Homo sapiens: one gene and its partners. The protein of the gene in region 1 purifies or fractionates together with the protein of each later gene. This does not show direct contact. Each region holds a gene or a part of one and is shown in the gene's direction. Other genes may lie near its edges.

The links.
Region 2: the proteins of CD6 (region 1) and EPB41L5 purify together in Homo sapiens (affinity purification with mass spectrometry; one large-scale study listed by BioGRID and IntAct). This does not show direct contact.
Region 3: the proteins of CD6 (region 1) and FARP2 purify together in Homo sapiens (affinity purification with mass spectrometry; one large-scale study listed by BioGRID and IntAct). This does not show direct contact.
Region 4: the proteins of CD6 (region 1) and PDCD11 purify together in Homo sapiens (affinity purification with mass spectrometry; one large-scale study listed by BioGRID and IntAct). This does not show direct contact.
Region 5: the proteins of CD6 (region 1) and ARHGEF40 purify together in Homo sapiens (affinity purification with mass spectrometry; one large-scale study listed by BioGRID and IntAct). This does not show direct contact.
Region 6: the proteins of CD6 (region 1) and CCDC12 purify together in Homo sapiens (affinity purification with mass spectrometry; one large-scale study listed by BioGRID and IntAct). This does not show direct contact.
Region 7: the proteins of CD6 (region 1) and PIP5K1A purify together in Homo sapiens (affinity purification with mass spectrometry; one large-scale study listed by BioGRID and IntAct). This does not show direct contact.

Annotation. Positions count from the first base shown.
Region 1 is NC_000011.10:60,974,680-60,978,179, forward strand, and holds part of CD6 (T-cell differentiation antigen CD6 isoform 1 precursor), read left to right. Parts: intron 1-3,500.
Region 2 is NC_000002.12:120,072,077-120,075,576, forward strand, and holds part of EPB41L5 (band 4.1-like protein 5), read left to right. Parts: intron 1-1,101; coding exon 1,102-1,144; intron 1,145-2,023; coding exon 2,024-2,102; intron 2,103-3,399; coding exon 3,400-3,444; intron 3,445-3,500. UniProt on the Homo sapiens protein: Plays a role in the formation and organization of tight junctions during the establishment of polarity in epithelial cells.
Region 3 is NC_000002.12:241,359,285-241,362,784, forward strand, and holds part of FARP2 (FERM, ARHGEF and pleckstrin domain-containing protein 2), read left to right. Parts: intron 1-1,593; exon of another isoform or gene 1,594-1,716; intron 1,717-3,500. UniProt on the Homo sapiens protein: Functions as a guanine nucleotide exchange factor that activates RAC1. May have relatively low activity. Plays a role in the response to class 3 semaphorins and remodeling of the actin cytoskeleton.
Region 4 is NC_000010.11:103,424,126-103,427,625, forward strand, and holds part of PDCD11 (protein RRP5 homolog), read left to right. Parts: intron 1-858; coding exon 859-1,400; intron 1,401-3,203; coding exon 3,204-3,266; intron 3,267-3,500. UniProt on the Homo sapiens protein: Essential for the generation of mature 18S rRNA, specifically necessary for cleavages at sites A0, 1 and 2 of the 47S precursor. Directly interacts with U3 snoRNA. Involved in the biogenesis of rRNA.
Region 5 is NC_000014.9:21,080,304-21,083,803, forward strand, and holds part of ARHGEF40 (rho guanine nucleotide exchange factor 40), read left to right. Parts: intron 1-356; coding exon 357-479; intron 480-569; coding exon 570-713; intron 714-1,016; coding exon of another isoform or gene 1,017-1,151; exon of another isoform or gene 1,152-1,194; intron 1,195-1,205; coding exon 1,206-1,816; intron 1,817-1,940; coding exon 1,941-2,175; intron 2,176-2,527; coding exon 2,528-2,614; intron 2,615-3,500. UniProt on the Homo sapiens protein: May act as a guanine nucleotide exchange factor (GEF).
Region 6 is NC_000003.12:46,928,246-46,931,745, reverse strand, and holds part of CCDC12 (coiled-coil domain-containing protein 12), read left to right. Parts: intron 1-3,500.
Region 7 is NC_000001.11:151,201,552-151,205,051, forward strand, and holds part of PIP5K1A (phosphatidylinositol 4-phosphate 5-kinase type-1 alpha), read left to right. Parts: intron 1-2,254; exon of another isoform or gene 2,255-3,500. UniProt on the Homo sapiens protein: Catalyzes the phosphorylation of phosphatidylinositol 4-phosphate (PtdIns(4)P/PI4P) to form phosphatidylinositol 4,5-bisphosphate (PtdIns(4,5)P2/PIP2), a lipid second messenger that regulates several cellular processes such as signal transduction, vesicle trafficking, actin cytoskeleton dynamics, cell adhesion, and cell motility.

The DNA of each region.
Region 1 (3,500 bases):
TCAGTTTCCTGATCAGCCAACTAAGGATGAAGGAACAGAGAGAATGAATTAGGAGCCCTTGACAGGGGAGGCTGGGGTGGCATCATGAGACCCCAGGTTCTGCCCTGGTCCCGTCTCTAATTCACCATTGACTGTGCTTCTTTTCTTCTCAGCCATGTTTTCTCATCAGTGGAAGGGGGGTGCTCTGTCAGACAATCTATAAGAAAGCTTTTGTCCAGATCTGACACTATGACGCAGTAACAAAGCCCCAGGCCTTTCCCGCCAGGGCAGTGCTGAGCTCCGTGACTCTAATGCCAGCTGTGCTCTGGCTGGCGAGGTCCTCGAGGGCTGCCTTTGTGTATGAAAAGGCTGTTTGTGGCTACTTTTGAAAAAAATAGTAATTCTTTAATTAACAATTTTTTAATAATTTGTTTTTTCTTAACTTGTGAGTTCAACATACTAATCATATTTTATTTTATAAGCCCTGTAATTTTGATTAATGACTTTCGATGGGCCTTTAATATTTGAGCAAATGAAGTTGAACAGACCTAGCATCCTTAAATAATAAATACCCTTACAAATGTAGCTAATCAAACTCCCTTGGTTCTGTGCTATTCCATAGGGTAGCCCCTACAATCACGCATTTAAAATGTGATGATAGTCCAAATTGAGATGTGTAAAGTGTAAAATATGCAACAGGTTTTGAAGATGAGTTTCAAGAAAGAATGTAAAATATTTCAACAAATTTTATGTGATTTATATGTCGAACTTATAATATTTTTGATATGATGGGCTAAATGAATTCTATTATCACAATTAAGTTTACATATTCCTTTTTACTTTTTAAAAATGGGGTTTCTGGTCTGGTGTGGTAGTTCACACCTGTAATCCCAGCACTTTGGGAGGCCAAGGCAGGAAGATCGCTTGAACCTAGGAGTTCAAGACCAGCTGGGGAAACATGGCAAAACCCCGTATCTCCAAAAAATACAAAATTAGCCTGAAGTGGTGGTACAAGCCTGTTGTCCCAGCTACTCGGAAGGCTGAGGTAGGAGGATGGTTTGAGCCCGGGAGTTTGAGGCTGCAATGAATGAGCCATTATTGTGCCACTTCACTCCAGTCTGGGCGATGAAGGAGACCCTGTCTCAATAAAAAAGTAGGGGGAGGGTTGTCCTGGAATATTTAAAATTACATGCGTAACTTGCATCATATTTATATTGGATAACACTGCTTTTGATATTCTAAGCACATTTATAAATATGATGAATTCCATATTTTATAGAGCATGAAACAAAATGTTCCCAAGAATTTTAGAAAATGCTTTTAGAACTAAAAAACTAGCATAAGTGAAGTGAATATTAAGTTATTTTTAAAATTTTTATAGATATGAGGGTAGAAGTGCAGTTTTGTTACACGGATATATTACGTAGTGGTGAAGTCTGGGATTATAGTGTACCCAGCACTGGAGTGTTGTACATTGTACCCAATAAGTAATTTTCATTCCTCACTCCCCTCCCATCTTCCCACCTTTTGGAATCTCTGATGTCTGTTACTCCATTCTGTATGTCCATGTGTGCACGTTGTTTGGCTCCTACTTATAAGTGAGAATGTGGTGTTTGACTTTCTGTTTCTGAGTTATTAAAGCGAATATCAAGTTCTCTTAAATATTCTAATGTTTACAGATATTGTCAAATTCTCTTAAATTTTCTACTTCAAAATTGAACCTAAGTCAATTACCTGCTCACATTCATGAGGAACTCAATGGCCAAATGTTTTTAAATATCACAAATATAGGACTTTATGCAACTCACGGAGCTTGACCCAACTTACATTTAACACCATTGGATATATACTATGAGTGTTTGTTTATTTAATCATCTCTATTTTCTAAATTCTAATCTTCCTGGGTTTAAAAGCCACTTACCAAGGAGGAAACAATGGCGCCATTGCAGGTAACTTGGGTTATGCCAAGCAGGTTGAAGTTTTTCCATCTCAGTGGACTGAGCTGAGGTCGGTGTTTTTGTTGTTTTGCCAAAACATAAGATATGGTTCCCCTGTGTTGCTGATGGATGCGCTTGTGCCCTTTTTGATAGTCCGTGCCCTCTAACTGGGCTGGCTCCTTGACCTATGAACTCTGAATCCAAGTTATACAAACCTAATCCCCTACATCTGCCGTGCATCTGGCCTTATTGTTTGATTGGACTGAATTAAACACACATGTTTACTTTTCTATTCTGACCTCTTTTCACATTCTTCCTGCCTGGCAAGACTTCATCTCATAGATACATAAATAATTTATGACAGGCTTCTGCATCTTTCTCCCGGCTTAGCTTGGCTCTCTGGCCACAGGTCAATGACTGATGACAGTTAGCGTGGCCTTCACCGTATTGGGGCCATGGAACGGGGTAGCTCCTAGGGTGCTGGAGCTCGAACTTTACAGAGGGATCTAGAATGAGTGAGAAATGCTGCCCATGGCCCTCCTCATTCAGACCACATTTATTAAGGCTTTATTTATTATATTTATAGAACACTCAAGAATTAAATTCAGTACCCAGCTGTTAGATTCTGAGTTAAGGAATCAGACTTCTCCCTGGGGCAAGGAGGAATAAACAGGTGGCCCCAACTGTCCTTTAGGACAGGAGCTTGGAGTGTAGACCTCCCAGGTGCGTGGCCATCCTCTCCCTGCCTGGACCACAGATGGGACACCATGAGCTTTAACATCCATGCCATGTGCTCAGGCCTGCCCTGAGCAGCCCCCTGGTAGGGCTGGGATCCCCAGGCTGTATCTACTTCCTCAGCTAGCAAGACCTCCAGGCCCTCCATCCTGTCCTCGGCACTGGCCCTTCTCCAGACTCAGAGCATGGTAAGTTATCCAGCATAGCTCTTCCCGGAGCACTTTATTCCAGCCCACCTTCCCAGTGTTGGCCAAGGTGTCATCCACCTGACAATTTACTTAACGTAATTTCCCTCCTTTTTCTTTCTTTCTTTTCTTTTTTTTTAGATGGAGTCTCGCTCTGTCGCCCAGGCTAGAATGCAGTGGTGCAGCTCACTGCAGCTTCAAACTCCTGGGCTCAAGGGATCCTCCCACCTCAGCCTCCCAAATAGCTGGGATTACAGGCGCCTGACACCATGCCTGGCTACTCTTTCTTAATTGATGTTTTAAAATGCAAATACATTTATTTTGAGAAGAAACTTTATATATCACTCCCTTAAATGGAAAGCCATTCATTATAAATCACCATCATGATTATAATGGTGAAAATAAACATAATGGAAATAAAACAATGTTACTAAATTCTAGCCAGATGCATTTGCTGCTTTCCCTTTCCTCAAAAGGGAGGGCTGTAGATGTCAGAGAGACTTTAAAGACTAACCCCATGGGAGATTTCCTCCTCCAAGTCTGTAATTAGAAAGGCTGAAAGGGAAATAAAGAGTATGCATAACTTCCTCATCATGTAATATAGTGGTATATAATGCCAAGTCAATGACCACCTAAATCAATTTTGCATAGTTTTGTGTATGTG
Region 2 (3,500 bases), on another chromosome or scaffold:
AAACAAATTTTCCAGAAAAAAACAACCCCATCAAAAAGTGGGTGAAGGATATGAACAGACACTTCTCAAAAGCAGACATTTATATGGCCAGCAAACACATGAAAAAAAGCGCATCATCACTGGTTATTAGAGAAATGCAAATCAAAACCACAATGAGATACCATCTCACACCAGTTAGAATGGCCATTATTAAAAAGTCAGGAAACAACAGGTGCTGGAGAGGATGTGGAGAAATAGGAATGCTTTTTTTGGTGGGGGTGTAAATTGGTTCAACCATTGTGGAAGACAGTGTGGTGATTTCCTCAAAGATCTAGAACCAGAAATATCATTTGACCCAGCAATCCCATTACTGCGTATATACCCAAAGGATTATAAGTCATTCTACTATAAAGACACATGCACACATATGTTTATTGCAGCACTGTTCACAATAGCAAAGACTTGGAACCAACCCAAATGCCCATCAATGATAGACTGGATAAGGAAAATGTAGCACATATACACCATGGAATACTATGCAGCCATAAAATAGGATGAGTTCATGTCCTTTGCAGGGACATAGATGAAGCTGGAAACCATCATTCTTAGCAAACTAACACAGGAACAGAAAACCAAACACTGCATGTTCTTCCTCATAAGTGGGAGTTGAACAATGGTAACACATGGACACAGGGAGGGGAACATCACATACTGGCGCCTGTTGGGAGGGTGAGGGACTAGGGGAGGGATACCATTAGGAGAAATATCTAATGTAGATGATGTGTTGATGGGTGCAGCAAACCACCATGGCATGTGTATACTTACGTAACAAACCTGCACGTTCTGCACATGTATCCCAGAACTTAAAGTATTTAAAAAAAAAAAAAGTCATCTGTCAGGTTTTAGGTCGTTTTTGTTCACGTGTGTCATAAGCTTGCTATGGTGGATATTGGCTAGATACTCTTCCTTCTCACCTCTTTTCTCATTCACTTGGGTTTTTCTCTTGTGAAGTATTTCCTTGCGGTTATCAGTGTAGGCACAATGAAAAGTAACTTTTAGTAATTCATTCAAATTTTAAAGTTCTGTCATCTGCTTAACTAAATTTTTGTTTTTGTTTTTCAGCATTGGTTGGATGGTACAAAAAGCATCAAAAAGCAAGTAAAAAGTAAGTGCAGACAAAATTATTTGTGGGGGGGAAAGGAAATAGAATATATTAGAAATTCTGATTTCTAATAGGATGTAAGAAATCATGTTTCAGATGAGTTTTTTAGCATTTCCATTTTCTAGAAATTATTTTATTCTGATACACTGAGCTACTCCCCAAGTCATGTAGGCTTGATACTAATCTAGATTAAACTGCATTGGGGCTTAACTTTCCAGGAGAAAACCTTGCAGCTTGCAAATGGGATTGACTTTCCCCGAAATGCTTAATGGTTATTTTTTAATTAGTTGTGTTGGAATTTTCCTGTTTGGCATCTGCCCTAATATTGAAAGTATTTTGAGACTTTGTGATATTTTAAAATTAAGAAAAATGAAACAATTCACATAAAATGTTAGTGTCATTCAGAGAGAGAATACCATTGTTTATTCATTATCCAACTTGACTTTTTATCAGACTTATTAGGGCACCTCAACTCTTGTCTCAAAATAATGAGACCACTGAGATTATAGAAGTTAGTGAACTTGCTGAATTGTATTTGTGTGGGAAGATTCACCATGAGCAGTTAATAACATAGGCATTCTTCAGTGTAGCAGGTTTTCAGGGCTGTTAGGTTGCACAGTCAAGACTTTTATTTGATGCATTTGGCTCTGAACTGTTAGAATTAATCTATAGCTGTCTATTCTTGGGATGAGAGTTAATAGTAATATGATGGCTTGGTACATTAAAAAACAATCTAATTGAAGCCTATGATCTAACCTGCAATAATGCCATAAAAACCTCATCTTTTGTCTCACTTCAGTAGATTTTTGACCAGTTTTCTGGCTGAAAAGTATTATTTAAGTAGTTTATTTTATTAAAACCTTTTTTTTTTTTAAATGACAGTTGGTTCACCCTATTGTCTGCATCTTCGAGTTAAGTTTTATTCCTCAGAACCAAATAACCTTCGTGAGGAGCTAACCCGGTAAGAACACCATCTAGAATTGTGCCAGGGTTATTTTGATAGTTTTGAAAGACTGTCTTTATATTGTTTCCAATTTATAGCCAGCTAATAAAATGGATTCCTGTCCCCTGGTAACAAGACCTCAAATAATAGAATTTTATTCTGGGACGTGTTTTTTAAGTGTATGATTCTTTTCCTTTAGCATTTTCAAAATAAAGAGTTGGTTTCTTAGCATCCTCCAAAGGTGACTAGTGAGTTCTTTTTTTTAAGTATCACTCTCAACTCAGGAATGTTAACAGGATTCACATGTTTCAATACATTGCAATATTATATTTATTGATGTTGAAAATAATCTATCTTTGGCCACAGGGAGTTTATTCAAATTGGCGCCCAACTTTCTTTACTCATTGAAATGCCATTGATTAATGAAAAACATTAGATTCTGATTGGTTTGAATAGTTTTGAATAAACCTTATGTTGTATATACTTATTTTAATGTTATCCTGCCTCCTTTGTATTTATTCATGGTCTCTATTATAAATTCATTGCTCCATATACACATACTATTTATTAAATGAAAAAGTTGAGCTTTTGAGTTCCTTTAGAAGGGTTTCCTTTAGAACACCTTGACAATGAGATAGTAGCTATCATCTGTAGTTATATCCATGTCTGTATCCCTTCACATAACAAGTAGATGTCTCGCTCTGTCATCTAGGCTGGAGTGCAATGGCATGTTCTCAGTTCACCGCAACCTCTGTTCCCCCAGGTTCAAGCAGTTCTCATGCCTCAGCCTCCCAAATAGCTGGGATTACAGGCACGTGCTCACACCCCCAGCCAATTTGCGTATTTTAATAGAGACGGGGTTTCGCCATGTTGGCCAGGCTGGTCTTGAACTCCTGGCCTCAAGTGATCCACCCGCCTCGCCCTCCCAAAGTGCTAGGATTATAGGTGTGAGCCACTGCACCAGGCCTTTAATTAAGAATACTTCTAAGATCTAGTGTTAGATCAGTAGGGTGATTATAGTTTACAATTACGTATTTTACATTTCAGAATAGCTAGAAGAAAATAATTCAAATATTTCTAGCATAAAGAAGAGAAAAATATTTAAGGTGATGGATACCCCACGTATACTGACTTGATCCTTACAAATTATATGAATGTATTCAATTATTTCATGTATCCCCAAACTATGCACATCTTTTATACATTAATACAAGTAATTTTTAATGAAATAATACTTCTCAAGTTAGAAGTGTAAGATTTTTTTTCACAGTCGATTGTGCTGTTGGGTTAAATTTGTGCCTTTCATTTTTCTTAGGTATTTATTTGTTCTTCAGTTAAAACAAGATATTCTCAGTGGAAAGTGAGTATTAGTTATTTAAGGATAAATGCACATTTTCGTGAGTGGTTGAAAAATTA
Region 3 (3,500 bases), on another chromosome or scaffold:
GGCCCTATAATGTTGTAGGATGCAGTGATGAATCTTGCTTAATCCCATCTTTCCCCTTCCCCGCCCATCCTCCTGATTGCTTCCCAAAATGAAAATGTGGTCATGTCCTATCCCAGCTGCAAAACCTACTTTGGTATGAGATTCCAACCAGTTGGCCCACTAGAGCTCGCGCAGCACAACCCCAGGCCACCTCCCCACCTCCCCTCGGGTGTCTCAGCCCAACTATACTCATCCTTTCCCAGCTGCTCCTGCAGTTTCTATGTAGTCCTCTGCCTGTGCACACACTATGTCCTTTGTCCACCTGGTCTCCTGTTCCCCTGTGAGGAAAGCTGCTCCAGGTCAGGCTAGCCAGCGGTGCTGCCTCTTTCTTTCTGCTCTCTCTGTGACTGCAGTGGGCAGGTAGTACTGGTTACTTTCTCAGTCGTCTCCCTTTCTGAATTAAACTTCTGTATCTTTGTGTGCTCTGTGCACACCATGCAATCACGATGGGGTTGAGGCCGCTTGTGGAGCTGAGTGACTGCTAACAAATCACTAACCTTTCTGAGCCTGAGTTCCTTGATGCCAGCTGCACATGGTTATTGTGAGGATTAAATGAGATGACATAAGCGAAGGGCTTGACATGCATCTCCTTGCAGTGGTGGTCATACAGGACACGGTAGCTGTTGTAATGTGTACCAGTGCATTTTTGAGGCCTTGTCTTGGACCTTGTCCTCTTGATGAAGCCTCCTCCCTGTCTCCCTCCAGCTGCCAACTTCCTCTCTACCACCCTCACTTTACTCACTCCAAGGCACTTAAATCACCATTTAATATATATTAGGTACTCTCTTCTTTGTATTTGTCCACTATATAGGGGGGAATTTTTCTCTCTTAGGAACTCCTGTATCCCTAAGCATTTAGACTTGCCTGAAACAGAATAGAGCTCAATAAATATTTGAATGAATTAATCAGATTTCTTCTGAGGCAGAGGTAGATGCCAGGTTTTATGGAGCTTGAAGGTATACAATTTGGGGGAAGGGGAGAACTCTTTAAGAGAAAGAATGCAAAGTTACAAATAAAAACTAATTTAGAAAGTGAGGCTGGGAGCGGTGGCTCACGCCTGTAATCATAGCACTTTGGGAGGCCGAGGTGGGTGGATCACGAGGTCAAGAGATGGAGAGGCAGGTGGATCACAAGGTCAAGAGATGAAGACCATCCTGGCTAACACAGTGAAACCCCCCGTCTCTACTAAAAATACAAAAAATGAGCCAAGTGTGGTGGCATGTGCCTGTATTCCCAGCTTCTCAGGAGGCTGAGGCAGGAGAATCACTTGAACCCGAGAGGTGGAGGTTGCAGTGAGCCGTGATCACGCCACTGCACTCCAGCCTGGGTGACAGAGCGAGACTCTGTCTCAAAAAAAAAAAAAAAAAGTGAATATTTAGAATGAGAACGTAACAAATTTGAAAAAGCTGATGAATAATGCAAATGGCTAAATTGAGAAAAATAACGTTTGTTAATTATCTAACACACCTGTGTAATATTTCTTCCTTTGGCTGTGTACTTTTTAATCACATTTTCATATGACAGGATATAGAAAGAACTCAGTGATTCCTCTAGCACAGTAGATAAATTTTTATTGTTGATAGGGTACATAAAACTTATGGTTTCACATAGACGTATTTGCTGTTTCTAGTACTGCTACAGGTTGGTGTCCCAGAAAAACAGGTGTTCAGGTAAATCCTGTTTCGCACAATTCCATTCAAAAAAGAAAAAAAAAAAAAACACACATCTTAGGCACACAGAATTGTACTGCTATATTGATTATTTTTCTGGTAACTGATCTATTCGCTTATATTTTAGCACGTCTGATGGTAAATTCCCCACAAACAAGCAACTGGCTCCCTCCATTTCAAACCATGTTTCCTTTCCACTGCCCACACACTTCCCTGAGTCAGACCCCATTGGACCTATTCACATTGCCACAGGATCCCTGGCCCTTCACCTTTATTTCATAAAAGCCCTGGTGAACCAGCACAGTGGGTGATAGTATTTCTAGAAGGAATACCCGCATTGAGATTGCTGGTAATCACCTAGGTTTGCATAGTAGAAGTAACTGTAAACAGCATAAATGTGTCCTGTTAAACCCAAACTAAGTGTCTTTCTCCAACTTAATGTACCCTTACGTGGATCTCAAAAATGCCAGCAGCACCTCCCAAGCTACCTGACATGAAGGGGAAGAGGAACAGAGGCAGAGTTGCAGTGGGAAAAGGCAGTAGTCTTAATTTATTGCAATTAGAATATTTTGGGGGTAAATTTTACAAAAGTGTATGACCATAGGGACACTCTGCTTAGGGCCTTTCTCGGGACCTTGGAAGGAGTTGGTGCAAGTGAGGGCCCAGAAACCTGAGCCAGACTAGCTCTATAGTCAAACTGCTTTAGTGGGGGTAGTTTCCTGGTCCCTGGCTTGATGCCAGATAACCCAGTAGGGGAATGTGAGGTGAAGGTGCTAAGTGAATCTTCCAGGAGCTAGTGGGAATGTGTTTGTGAAGGAGGAACTACTTTTAGAAATTGTTTAAATTACTAGGCTTTTATAAATTTCTTGTCCCCTTTATTATTATTATTATTTTTATTTTTTATTTATTTATTTTTTTTTAGACAGAGTTTCACTCTGTCACCCAGGCTGGAGTGCAGTGGTGCAATCTTGGCTCACTGCAACCTCCGCCTCCCACATTCAAGCGATTCTCCTGCCTCAGTCTCCCAAGTAGCTGGGATTACAGGCACACGCCACCACGCCCAGCCAATTTTTTTGTATTTTTAGTAGAGACAGGGTTTCGCCATGTTGGCCAGGCTGGTCTCAAACTCCTGACCTCAAGTAAACCACCTGCCTCCGTCTCCCAAAGTGCTGGGATTACAGGTGTGAGCCATCACGCCCGGTCCCCCTTTATGATTAAAATCTCAGTTGCTTTGTTAGTATAGTAGTTAATAAGATGAATGTTGGAAAACAAGTATCAGTATCTGAACAAGAAATGGAACCCAGAGAGTGTTTAAAAATATTAATTTTGGCCAGGCGTGGTGGCTCATGCCTGTAATCCCAGCACTCTGGGAGGCTGAGGTGGGCAGATCATGAGGTCAGGAGATCAAGGTCATCCTGGCTAACATGGTGAAACCCCATCTCACTAAAAACACAAAAAATTAGCCGGGCATGGTGGCGGGCGCCTGTGATCCCAACTACTCGGGAGGCTGAGGCAGGAGAATGGCGTGAACCCAGGAGGCGGAGCTTGCAGTGAGGCGAGATTGCGCCACTGCTCTCCAGCCTGGGTGACAGAGCAAGACTCCATCTCAAAAATATATATATATATTAATTTTTAATTGAACTATTTTTGAAAGAAGAGCAAATACAACTCTAAGGGGAAAGACAGTTATTCCAGCTTTCTCTTGGAAGGTAAGTAATGGCATACTGTAGGTAGCCCCTATCAGTTAAGACTTTTAAAGCTGGTAGTACTTCTGCAGGATTCTGCAGAGAA
Region 4 (3,500 bases), on another chromosome or scaffold:
AAAAACATCCCATGAGCCAAACAGCATGTCTGTGGGCAGTTCAGACCTCCAAGCTGTGCGTCCACACCCTCGCCTGCCTTGTCTTCTGGACACTTTTGTGTGACATAAGAATGGGTTTGAGGGAAAAATTATTATTTTTCTCTGGGTGATGAATATATTTGGTTATTGTCTAAAGCACTTATTAGGCACCTAGTTGCACAGAGTATGGTGCAGTGTAGATATAATCCTTAATTTCCAGTTGCTTACAGTATTAAGAGTTTAGGACAGAGAGAGAATGGAAAGCAATACTAACCTCTCATTCAGTTTTCTAGCAGGACCCTGTACCATTTTATCACCTAAGGGAAGCTTGGGCATATAAGAGCATGAGCACAATTTGGATTTTGAGGAAAGAGAGGCTAGGTGCCTTGCACACAATAAGCTCTCAGTAATGACTCTATTCATTGCTTGGGTTGAAGAGTGATTAATTGGGGGTGGGGGAGCTGCAGGACAGATTCAGGAACCACAGTGTCTCTAAGCTGAGAGAGCTGTTAGAGGTTGCAAGGCTGTGCATCAGAATTATCTCAATAACTTGTAAAATTCAGATTTACTAGATCTAGGATAGGGTCTTGCAATTTAAATTCAAAGCAAAGCAAAAACCAAGCCAAGGTAATTCAGAGGCAGCCCCATGAGTTTAGTGTACAGGAGAGGAAAGCTAGGTCCAGGGAGTGAAGGCTAGTCTGTTCCAGCTCAGACCAGCCTTGAGTTCCCTAGCCTTGGGACCCCAGAGGGTTTCCTCAGCCACACCCTGCCCAGTGGGGCCATGAGTGAGTGACCATGCTGTGTAAGGAAAGCAGGGATGGTGGCTTTTCTCTCTTCTAGCTGAGGAAAGGCAGCGAACACCAGGCGATTGTGCAGCACTTGGAGAAGTCCTTTGCCATTGCCTCCTTGGTAGAGACGGGCCACCTGGCAGCTTTCTCCCTGACCTCTCACCTCAACGACACCTTCCGCTTTGACTCAGAGAAATTGCAGGTGGGACAGGGTGTCTCCCTAACCCTCAAGACCACAGAACCAGGAGTGACTGGCCTTCTTTTGGCTGTGGAGGGGCCGGCTGCCAAGAGGACCATGAGGCCGACCCAGAAGGACTCTGAGACAGTTGATGAGGATGAAGAAGTGGATCCAGCTCTGACTGTAGGGACCATAAAGAAGCACACCCTCTCCATCGGGGACATGGTCACAGGGACTGTCAAGTCCATTAAGCCTACCCATGTGGTTGTGACTCTGGAAGATGGCATTATTGGCTGTATCCATGCCTCCCACATTCTAGATGATGTTCCAGAGGGCACCTCTCCTACTACCAAGCTGAAGGTTGGGAAGACGGTCACTGCCCGAGTGATTGGCGGGCGAGACATGAAGACATTCAAGTATGGAGGCTCTGGGGGTGGGCTGGCTTCGAGGGAGATTGTTGTTGTTGTGGGAGGACTGGGAAAGTAGGTGGGCTCCAAAAAGTTGCATGTAAGTCAGATTCTCTTTTAGTTAACAAAAGGCATTCACCAAAGAATTATTTTGCAAGATTCTTTTTTTTTTCTTTTTTTTGAGACGGAGTCTCACTCTGTTGCCCAGGCTGAAGTGCAGTGGTGTGATCTCGCCTCACTGCAAGCTCTGCCTCCTGGGTTCACACCCTTCTCCTGCCTCAGCCTCCCAAGTAGCTGGGACTACAGGCACCCACCACCACGCCCGGCTAACTTTTTGTGTTTTTAATAGAGATGGGGTTTCACTGTGTTAGCCAGGATGGTCTCAATCTCCTGACCTTGTGATTTGCTCACCTCCACCTCCCAAAGTGCTGGGATTACAGTGCATTATTCTTTTTAAAAATATGGAATATATGGTGTGGTTGTTAAGAACATGGGTTTGGAGTCAGACCCGGGTTTGAATTCTAGATTAACTGTGACCATGTGGCAGTAGCTACTTAAGTCCAAATTTTATTTTCTTAATTTGTAACGTGAGAGTCATGGTAGCGACTACTTTGTAGGGCCATGGTGAAGACTGAAAGAGAGAACGTGTAGTCTGTTCTTTGCCTAGTGGGTTGCTGGCCTCAGTTACTGCGCTGTATACATCTGCAGTTGTCATTCTCCACCTCCCACTTTAATTATCCTCATTTACTTTAAATCTAGTGCCACATGTTACTGTAGCAGAAATTCTTGCTATAACAAGAACAGCAAAAAAAGAATTCAAAGTCTGGCCAATAATTTGCATATTAATTTCAGTAGCTAACTGTGGGGTCTTCAGTAAGTCAATTATCCTCTAAATAAAGACCTCAGTTTCCTTATTTTTAGAATGAAAGAATTGGAGTATATAGACTGTAAGGAAAATTGTTTTCAGGATCTGATATGACAATCCTAAAAGATCAGGCCAGGCACGGTGGCTCACGCCTGTAATTCCAGCACTTTTGGGAGGCTGAGGTGGGTGGATCACCTGAGATCAGGAGTTCAAGACTAGCCTGGCCAACATGGTGAAACCCCGTCTACTGAAAAAACAAAAATTAGCCGGGCACAGTGCCTGTAGTCCCAGCTACTCGGGAAGCTGAGGCAGGAGAATCACTTGAACTCAGGAGGCAGAGGTTGCAGTGAGCTGAGATTGTGCCATTGCACTCTAGCCTGGGCAAGAGAGTGAGACTCCGTTTCAAAAAAAAAAAAAAAATCAGGTGAGGCTGGGTGTAGTGGCTGAACCCTGTAATCCCAGCACTTTGGGACGATGAGGGAGGTGGAAAACCTGAGCCCAGGAGTTCAAGACCTGCCTGGGCAACATGGTGAGACCCCATCTCTACAAAAAAAAAAATAAATAAATAAAAATAAAAATTAGCTGGGCATGGTGGCATACACCTATAGTCCCAGCTACTTGGGAGGCTGAGCTGGGAGGATTGCTTGAGCCCAGGAGATTGAGGCTACAGTGAGCCATGATTGCGCCACTGCATTCCAGCTTGGGTGACAGAGTGAGACCTTGTCCCAGAAAAAAAAAAAATTCAGATGAGCCTGCTCCTTACTAATAACTGCAAAGGTTGGGAATGGAAACCTTCAGCCTGACACATCTGTCTTCAGTGGTGGTGTGACAGTGGAACAGGGTGCTTTTGTGAGCTTGGTTTGGTGGAGAGTAGGGAGAAATCCTGACCTACAGATTACTGTGTTACAGAGATGAAGAGAAATGATTCAGCTTATTTGTTTCTCCAGGTATCTCCCAATAAGTCACCCCAGATTCGTTCGAACCATCCCGGAGCTGAGTGTTCGGCCAAGGTGAGGGGGACATTAGCAGCACTGTCTTACGGAAAGAGCACTGGGCTTTGGAATTAGGAATCCCGAATTCGAATCTTGATTTTACCAGTGTTAGGATTGATTTTTGCCTTTCTCTGTCCAAGTTTTCTTGTTTCTCTAGTGGGGATATTTGGTTCTCCTAGGGCTGGAGGGATCATATGAAAATTAATGCAAAAGCTGTGTACAGGTTTTAAGTATCAATTTAAAGCCTGGTTT
Region 5 (3,500 bases), on another chromosome or scaffold:
CCAAGGCTTGGTGAAGGCCGTCAGTCATCCCTATGACCCTCATCCTGCTTTTGGTTCACCCCAGTTTGATGTACTTCACCCTCGGACATAGCCCTGGAACTTTGACCCACTCCCTCAGTGCTTCCCATCAGCCCAGCTTCCCTCTCATCTGCCTTACCAAAGATTTCTTACTCGGTTTCTCATCTGACCCTTGTGGAAACTATTACCATTCACTGTTGTCATTCCCACATTGCAGATGAGATGCAATAGTTCACTCAAAGTTCTATAGATTGGGGTGGTGGGGCTGATGCTGGATCTCAGCCCTTCCTTGCCTTTCCACTCCATGACCCCCTGCCCTCCCACCCCATCTGCCTCAGGTGTTGCAGTGGCTCTCGGGCCCAGGGGAGGAGCAGCTGGCAAGCTTTGCTATGCCTGGGGACACCTTGTCTGCCCTGCAGGAGACAGAGCTGCGATTCCGTGCTTTCAGCGCTGAGGTCCAGGTGAGAAGGGGCTGGAGGGCAGGTGAGAGGAGGCAGGGGGAGACTACCTAGGAGTGAGGACCAGGTCTGAGCGCAGCCTCCCTTCTCCAGGAGCGCCTGGCCCAGGCACGGGAGGCCCTGGCTCTGGAGGAGAATGCCACCTCCCAGAAGGTGCTGGATATCTTTGAACAGCGGCTGGAGCAGGTTGAGAGTGGCCTCCATCGGGCCCTGCGGCTACAGCGCTTCTTCCAGCAGGTGCATGCAGAGCCTTTTCCTTCTGTGCCCCCCCATTTCCATTTATTCACTTCCTTTCTGCCTGGAGAGGCTAATCAAGTTGTTAAAAGTGGAGGCTGAGGGGCCCATCTCCTAGGTTTTTGCTCTTAGCTCTGCCACCTCCTTGCTGAATGGCATGGGGCAAGATACTAAACCTGACTGTGCCTCCATAGATCTACCTCACAGGGCTGCTGTGGGGATTACACGAGGCAATACATAAAAGCCCTTAGCACAGAGCCTGCCACTCATAAATGTCGTATGAGTACCGGTTATTCTTTTATATAGGCTCTTCCATCTCCATACCAACTCCGAGTGACATGGTTAGGCAGTGATGGTGGAACAGTGAGAAAACAGGAGAGTGACGGGCATTGGGAGGCCACAGGCAAGAGGACAAGGGCTGTCACTGGGCATCCTTCGTGAGCAACACAGGCCCTTACCCTTTCTCTCCCATCCCCAACCCCTTTGACTTCGTAGGCACATGAATGGGTGGATGAGGGCTTTGCTCGGCTGGCAGGAGCTGGGCCGGGTCGGGAGGCTGTGCTGGCTGCACTGGCCCTGCGGCGGGCCCCAGAGCCCAGTGCCGGCACCTTCCAGGAGATGCGGGCCCTGGCCCTGGACCTGGGCAGCCCAGCAGCCCTGCGAGAATGGGGCCGCTGCCAGGCCCGCTGCCAAGAGCTAGAGAGGAGGATCCAGCAACACGTGGGAGAGGAGGCGAGCCCACGGGGCTACCGACGACGGCGGGCAGACGGTGCCAGCAGTGGAGGGGCCCAGTGGGGGCCCCGCAGCCCCTCGCCCAGCCTCAGCTCCTTGCTGCTCCCCAGCAGCCCTGGGCCACGGCCAGCCCCATCCCATTGCTCCCTGGCCCCATGTGGAGAGGACTATGAGGAAGAGGGCCCTGAGCTGGCTCCAGAAGCAGAGGGCAGGCCCCCAAGAGCTGTGCTGATCCGAGGCCTGGAGGTCACCAGCACTGAGGTGGTAGACAGGACGTGCTCACCACGGGAACACGTGCTGCTGGGCCGGGCTAGGGGGCCAGACGGACCCTGGGGAGTAGGCACCCCCCGGATGGAGCGCAAGCGAAGCATCAGGTGAGATCCCAGCCCAACTGGTGCTAAGAGGCGGAGCCAACTGCCCAGTAGGAAAAGAAGATGACATTGTTGGGGGTACTGGCTCCCTCCCACACCTCCTCTGCCACTCCTATTGTGCCTGCAGTGCCCAGCAGCGGCTGGTGTCTGAGCTGATTGCCTGTGAACAAGATTACGTGGCCACCTTGAGTGAGCCAGTGCCACCCCCTGGGCCTGAGCTGACGCCTGAACTTCGGGGCACCTGGGCTGCTGCCCTGAGTGCCCGGGAAAGGCTTCGCAGCTTCCACCGGACACACTTTCTGCGGGAGCTTCAGGGCTGCGCCACCCACCCCCTACGCATTGGGGCCTGCTTCCTTCGCCACGTGAGTGATCCCCTCAACTTCTTCCAAGTGCTCTCCCTTCTCTGTTCCAGCCTCATCCATCTGTCCCTCTTTCTCAGTACCCACGGCCCTCTCCTCCCATGTGTGGTCCATGACCTTGGGGCCCAGCCCTGTTCTGTGGGCACTTCTGCCTCTACTCAGCCTCTGCGCCCTGCTCTCAAGAGCTGCCTGGACTATGCTCTCTCCACAGGGAGCCCTTCCCTCCCTGGTAGGCTGAGTGCTCCCTGGTGACCCATCCCTCATTTGGGCTACAGAGAGGATAGAGAGGGGGAAGAGAGAGGCTTGTCTGCAGCGGCCTCACCGGGGACTCCTTATCTGTTCTTTACTGGCACAGGGGGACCAGTTCAGCCTTTATGCACAGTACGTGAAGCACCGACACAAACTGGAGAATGGTCTGGCTGCGCTCAGTCCCTTAAGCAAGGTAACTTTTTCTCCAACCTTCAGGAGAAAAGTAGAGAGGCCAGAAAGACCTAAAAACCCACCCAACAAATCCCTCAGGGCAAAAAACTGGATATGCCCAGGAACATCACCTACCAATCATCTCCTAGAATTGCCGAGGGTGGGACAAGCACCGGACTGGTGAGGCCAGGTTCTTATCCAGTCCACCTGAGGGACTGGGCAGGACTCCTGTTTCCTCTGGGCCTCTATTTCCACAGCTGGTAAATGGGGGCAATAGTCACTATAGCCAGCTCACAGGGAGGATCTAAGCATCAGAAGAGCTCACATCAAAAGACGTACAAGTGACTAAAAGTTCAAAGGCAGTGGCCGGGCGCGGTGACTCACACCTGTAATCCCAGCACTTTGGGAGGCCGAGGCGGGTGGATCACGAGGTCAGGAGATTGAGACTATCTGGCCAATATAGTGAAACCCCATCTCTACTAGAAATACAAAAAAAAAAAAAAAATTAGCCAGGCGTGGTGGCGGGCACCTGTAGTCCCAGCTACTCGGGAGGCTGAGGCAGAAGAATGGCGTGAACCTGGGAGGCGGAGCTTGCAGTGAGCCGAGATTGTGCCACTGCACTCCAGCCTGGGCGACAGAGCAAGACTCCATCTCAGGGGAAAAGAAGAAAAGAAAAGAAAAGTTCAAAGCCAGAAAGTAAAGGGGATTACTATTTTGATTCTTCTTCCATTTCCCTTCAAGATATAGACAGTGATTGCTGGCCTGCAGGCCCCCACCTGCTTTCTTTCCAGGGAGAATGGTTTTGCCTTACTTTAGGGAGCATCTGGGCTTCATCTATACCCAAAAGCCTAGGGTATCACCCACCTACCCCCCAACCCCTGAGCTTGGCCCCCAGAGGCTCCACCCCT
Region 6 (3,500 bases), on another chromosome or scaffold:
CACAGCAGTTCTCTCTCTGGCCCTTGATGGGGCCTGTATGGCCAGGAGGGACCAGGGTGGCCAGGTGGAGGACCTTGTTCTCAGGGAACAGGCCATGTGGGACTGTCCTGTCCTTATCCTCTCTGCCTCCCTCCAGGGGCCCAGGGCAGCAGGTGAATGTGGAGTAGCCTCAAGATATAAGGGATGAGAAGGGAGGCTAGCGCCCCAAAGGATAAGCCTGGTAGCATGAGTGAGTGAAGTGGACCAGGGGCCATGAAACCCCCATGAGCAGTGTAGGCTTTGAGGCCAGTTTGCCAGTGATGGGGTTGGATCAGATTCATAATCTCAAAGCTTCCTTTCATTTCGCCATTCTAGAACTCTACTCTGGTTCTATACTTGACAGAGAACATCAACTTTCTCCACCTGCTTCCTCTCATTGGCACATGTGAAAAAGCACCCTAGGGGTGATTTCCCCTGAACCTCCCTGGCCAGCCCATGTCCCGGGCTCCTGCAGCTGGCCTGAAGCAGAGTAAAGTAAATAGAAAAGGTCAGCTACCCATTTTAGAAGGAAACTCTATGGAATGCAAACTTGGCATTCCCTGTTGCTTTGCCACAAAGAAGTTGCTTAGGGGTTGGCTGCCCCGGCCCAGCCACATTCCTGCCCTCTCTGCTGGGCACAACTTCTTTGCTTCCAAATGTCTTCTCAAGTCATTGAAAGGCTCAGAGAGCCCCAGGCTACCCATAAAGCTCTTTCTTGAGTGCCTTCTGAATTCCTTTATCCAGCTTGAGGCAATGTATGCTGAGCCCCTCCTGGAGCTGCCTGGTGCATTTAGGGCAGGCTGTGAAAGACAGACATGCAGCCGACACAGGGCCACGTGCATGGAGTGGGGCCTGCTGTGGAGAGGGTAGAGAGGCAAGTGGGGCAAAGGGGGCCCAGGAGAAGGGCGGTTACTGTGCCTCAGGGTGAGTAGGGACACTGGGAGGGGCCCACAGGGCCACCTCCTGGAGCTGGCTCTTTAAGCGTGATGGACGGGGAAGTGTGTAGCTGAGGGGGTGAGCAGGCTGTGGGGCCAGGACCACGTGAAGAAGCTTAGACTTGTTTTGGGGACACTGGGGTCCCTGAGTCAGAGGGAGGGCCAGTGGAGGCACTGAGGTGGCTGATGTGTCTGCTCCTGTGGAGAGACAGCAAAGCTCCACCCAGACACTGGCTGCCGGTATAGGGTGGACTTTGGGTGGCCTAGGGCATTTGGTGCAAAGGATAGTGTCTTAGAAGCCATTGGGCTTTCTGGGCTGCCCTCCTTCCCATAGACTCTGGGGGCAGAAAGCCCCAAAAAAGCATGGCTTGGTCTCTGCTTCCCTTTGGCTAGGGGACAGCCTGGCCCTAAGCCACAGAGACTGGCCACCAGCAGAGCTGAGGTGCTGGTGCTGCCTGACTCAGAACCCTGCCACAGTCTTCTGCTGCCTTATGGCCCCTCTGCCTGTTTCCTCTTTATGTTTTTGAGTACTTCGTTGGTTGTTTCTGTGTAGGAAGAATACTGATTAGAAATTCCGGAAACTACAGAAAATCAGAGAAGCAAGTAAAAATCACTCAGAGCTGGACATGGTGGCTCATGCCTGTAGTCCCAGCTATTCAGGAGGCTGAGACAGGAGGATTGCTTAAGCCCAGGAGATCAAGTCCAGCCTGAGCAACATAGGGAGACCCCCATCTCTTTTTTTTTTTTTTTTTTTTTTTTTTGAGATGGGGTCTTGCTGTTCTCGCCCAGGCTGGAGTGCAGTGGCACCATCTCGGCTCACTGCAACCTCTGCCTCCCAGGTTCAAGTGATTCTCCTGCCTCAGCCTCCTGAGTAGCTGGGATTACAGGCACCCGCCACCACATCTGGCTAATTTTTGTTTTTTTAGTAGAGATGGGGTTTCACCATGTTGGTTGGCCAGACTGTTCTTGAACTCCTGACCTCAGGTGATCCACCCGCCTCGGCCTCCCAAAGTGTTGGAATTACAGGTGTGAGCCACCATGCCCAGCCAAGACCCCCATCTCTTGAAAAAAAGTCAGTCCTAGAGATAACCACTGTCAACATTTTTGTTGTTTTTATTTCTTTTCTTTTAGCTAGAGCTAGTACCTTCTCCCCTTAGCAACTTCCTCATTCTAAAATGGGGGTGGCAGAACCATTGTTTGGCTCCAGTTGTCCTCAGAAAGGTGGCTTCCAGATGCCAGTGACTGCTGGTGAGTGCAGGCTGCTTCAGTATTTCCTGGCCAGCTGACAAGGTGTTAGGTGTTGGCCTGCCCTACTGCTCTGGCTGGCACCATCTCGTCACACCCTGCCCAGTCTCCAAGAGCTGTGGTGGCCCCGGACACTGTAAGGCTATGGGAGCTCCTAGGATAGCAGCCTGGACCTGCTTTGTGTGTGAACCTGTTGTCCTACTATTTGTTTCTTGACTTTCCTTTTTTATCTCCATTCTTGTCTCCTTTTGGATTTTTTTGTTTTTAATTATTCCACTTTCTTCCTCTGTTAACTTGTTAATTGTATGCTGTTTTCCCTTTCTTTTAGTGATTTCCACAGGCATAACAACATACATCCTTAACTTATCAAAGTCTAATAGAAAATAGTAGTATTTTTACCATTTCCTCTACAGTGCTTAGGACCTTAGAACACTTTAAGGCTATTTGCCACTCTGCCTTTTACACTATTGTTGCTATATTTTAAATACTATAAGTTGTTATTACTCTTTTATACAGTCAATATTCATTTAAATTCTCTTTTCCCCCTGCTTTTTTTTTGAGACAGGGTCTTGCTTTGTCACCTAGGCTGGAGTGCAGAGTGTGATCATAGCTCTCTGCAGCCTTGAACGCCTGGCTCAAGCAATCCTCTTGCCTTAGCCTCCGAAGTAGCTGGGATTACAGACACAAGCCATTGTATTTACCCTTTCTGAGGCATTTTATTTTTTCCCTGCAATTCCATGTTTCCGTCTGAGATCATTTTCCTCTAGCCTAAAGTATTCCTTTTAGTATTTCTTGAATAACGGATTCACTGATAACTGATTCTCCTAACCTTTCTTTGTCTGAAAAAGTCTTTCTCTTGAAGGCTTCTTAACTAGATTTAGAATTTTGTGTGACATTTATTTTGTCCACACTTCTGAGATACCATTTCATGGTCTTATGGTTTCCATAGTTGCAGTTGAGAAGTCAGTAGTCTGTTTTAGTTTCTGCTTAAACACACTTTTTTTTTTCTCTCCAGGCCCATGAGATTATATGAGGTTGGTGCAAAAGTAATTGTGGTTTCTGCCACTATGTTCAATGGCAAAAACCACAGTTATTTTTGCATCAACCTAATGGGAAGCTCTGCTCAGTCTCTCAGCTTTTCAGCTGCTGCATGTAAATAGACATGCTTTAAGGGGAAAGAGGGACGTGATGTCAGGCTCACTTTGTTGTACTTCCCTTATCTCCATGATTGCAGCCCCTGAAATCCTTGCTGTCTTGGTACTTCTCTAAAGCCATTTAAAATACATATATATACATTTTTTT
Region 7 (3,500 bases), on another chromosome or scaffold:
CATCATGTCAGCCAGACTAGTCTTGAACTCCTGACCTCAAGTAATCCGCCCACTTCGGCCTCCAAAAATGCTGGGATTACAGGCATATCGCAAGGTCAGGAGTTCGAGACCAGCCTGGCCAACATGGTGAAACCCCATCTCTACTAAAAAATACAAAAAAATTAGCCAGGCATGTTGGCGCAGGCCTGTAATCCCAGCTACTTAGGAGGCTGAGTCAGGAGAATTGCTTGAACCCGGGAGGCAGAGGTTGCAGTGAGCCGAGATCACACCACTGCACTCCAGTCTGGGTGACAGAGCAAGACTCTGTCTCAAAACAAAAAAAAGGGGGCAAAAAGTGGCTAAATTTCAAGCTCTTGATGGACTATGGAAAGATTATAATGGCCTCCACCAAATCCAAACATGGTAATTGCTCCAATAGCAAAAGTAGTTAAACATCTCTTAGAGCTTATGGTTTGCTTTACTCTGTGTATTTCACTTGTCAACAGTGTAAAAGCTGACAGCTTAATGGTGAAACTATCTTTAATATTGGCAGGGAACAAACTCTCCTAAATAACCTCTCCTTCCCAATTTAAATGCCAGAAGATTGGGAGTGCCTAGAAGTTGTGAGTGGCTTATCAAAAACTGTCAATATGTCCTTGGCTATGACATTTTTGTTTTATATCCATTTTCAGCATTGTCAGAGAACATTGTCCTTTAGGATTTCAGAGTTTCACCAAAACTTAAGTGGAGTTCAGCTAAACAGCTAAGAACAGTAAATGGTTTTAGGGTGGTTGACACGCACACTTCTTGAATTTCTACAGGGCCAGCCTTCTAGCCTTTAACAATTCAGGAAATCATAAACCATCACTTGTTCCTGCCAACTTCCTAATTCCTCTGGTACCATGCAGACAAAGAAACACTCTCTTCCAATCGCAAATAAAATCTTTTTTCTCTTTTTTTAGGTGGACTCTTGCTCTTGTCACCCAGGCTGGAGTGCAGTGGGGTGATCTTGGCTCATTGCAGCCTCAGCCTCCCGGGTTCAAGCGAGTTGCCTGCTCAGCCTCCCAAGTAACAGATTACAGGCACCTGCCACCACATCTGACTAATTTTTGTATTTTAGTAGAGACAGGGTTTCACCATGTTGGCCAGGCTGGTCTCAAACTCCTGACCTCAGGTGATCCACCCATCTCGGGCTCCCATAGTGCTGGGATTACAGGCGTGAGCCACCATGCCCTGCCAGTAAAGTCTTTTTTTTTTTTTGAGAGGGAGTCTCTCTCTGTCGCCCAGGCTGGAGTGCGGTGGAGCAATCTTGGCTCACTGCAGCCTCAGCCTCTAGAGTTCAAGCGATTCTCCTGCTTCAGCTTCCCAAGTAACTGAGATTACAGGCACCTGCCACGTCTGGCTAATTTTTGTATTTTAGTAGAGATCAGATTTCACCATGTTAGTCAGGCTGGTCTCAAACTCCTGACCTCAGGTGATCCTCTCGCCTCAGCCTTGCAAAGTGCTGAGGTACATACAGGCTTTAGCCGCCGCCGCTGGCCTTACTTTATGCCCTTTTTACCACCATGAGGAGAGTAAAGAATTTCTGTCTTGGAGGCTTGATTTGAAGTTAGTGGTTGGGTTAGAAGGGATAGGATACTAAGGTGTACACTGCTCCTATGAAATAAGAGTTGTGGAGTAAAATCATGTGTGACTTCCTCAAGGAAAAGCACTTGAGGCTGGGTACAATGGCTCACACCTATATTCTCAGCACTTTGGGAGGCCAAGGCAGGCGGATCACCTGAGGTCAGGAGTTTGAGACCAGCCTGGCCAACATGGTGAAACCCTGTCTCTGCTAAAAATACAAAAATTAGCCGGGTGTGGTGGCAGGCACCTGTAATCCCAGCTACTCAGGAGGCTGAGGCAGGAGAATTGCTTGAACCCGGGGGACAGAGGTTGCAATGAGTCAAGATCACACCATTGCATTCCAGCCTGGGGGACAAGAGTGAAACTCCATCTCAAAAAAAAAAAAAAGGCCAGGAGCAGTAGCTCACGCCTGTAATCCCAGCACTTTGGGAGGCCGAGGTGGGCGGATCACAAGCTCAAGAGATGGAGACCATCCTAACCAACGTGGTGAAACCCCGTCTCTACTAAAAATACAAAAATTAGCTAGTCATGGTGGCACACTCCTGTAGTCCCAGCTACTCGGAAGGCTGAGGCAGGAGAATTGCTGGAACCCAGGAGGCGCGGGTTGCAGTGAGCTGAGATCACGCCACTGTACTCCATCCTGGAGACAGAGTGAGACTCTGTCTCAAAAAAAAAAAAAAGAAAAAAGAAAAGCACTTAAACCCTAGATAATCATGAGCTGTGTAGTTCCTTTTGCTTCAGACTAGAACATTTTTAAAATGGTCATCGCTCACCTATATGATTTTATCATGTGCACAAATGATTTAGACATAACTTTACAGCTGCTTACCTGACTTTTTCTCCCCCTTAACGGCTCAGGGAGATCCAGAGGATACAGTATTGGAGCATTTTTGCTTGGGACTTTTATAGTAGGGACAGCTTCATCAGTCTGTGATTCTGATTGCTTTGTTCTTCCCAGCAGAGCCCTACCTGTAACCTGCAGTAATCTGTTAACTCCAGTAGTAGGGATTATTGTTGATATATATATATATTTTTTTGAGATGGAGTTTCGCTCTTGTTGCCCTGGTTGGAGTGCAATGGCGCGATCTCGGCTCACTGTAACCTCTGCCTCTGGGGTTTGAGTGATTCTCCTGCCTCTGCCTCCTGAGTAGGTGGGATTACAGGCACCCGCCAACACGCCCGGCTAATTTTTGTATTTTTAGTAGAGACGGGGTTTCGCCATGTTGGCCAGGCTAGTCTCAAACTCCTGATCTCAGGTGATCTGCCCACTTCAGCCTCCCAAAGTGCTGGTATTACAGGCGTGAGCCGCCACGCCCGGCCTGTGGATGTTTTTTTGATCTGTGTTCTGTTGTGTACAGTGTAAGCCATTTGTAGGCTGATTTCTTTCCTAGTTCTTCCTCTTAGTGAAAAGTAAAGCAGTTTAGATCATGTTGAATGATAAACTGAAATTTAGAAATGCAAACATAGAATACAATGTCAGAATATCACCAGGTGCCATTTTGGTTGATATTTTATAAATAGGGAGATATTTTTCTGTTTACTCTCCATAGGGATTTTGACACTTTCCACCCACCCCTTTTTCCTTTTGTCACCTTGGTATATTCTGCCAGAAAACTGACATCAGAATGTCATTGCTTCTGATCGATTTATTTCTGCCATGACACTCAAGCCCATTGTCAGTTATAATTAACTAGTCTAATAGGTATCCAGTTTCTGATATTAATTGATAATGTGTACTTACACGTTAGCGTTGAATATCAAAATAGTACGTTTTGCTTATTAATGTCTGTGGGCTTTTTTAGGTTAATTTAAAACTCTTCTGATTAATACCTTTGCTCAAATATGTGCTACCTAATAGCTATTAAATATTTTATTAGCCTGTTTTTCTTGGATAA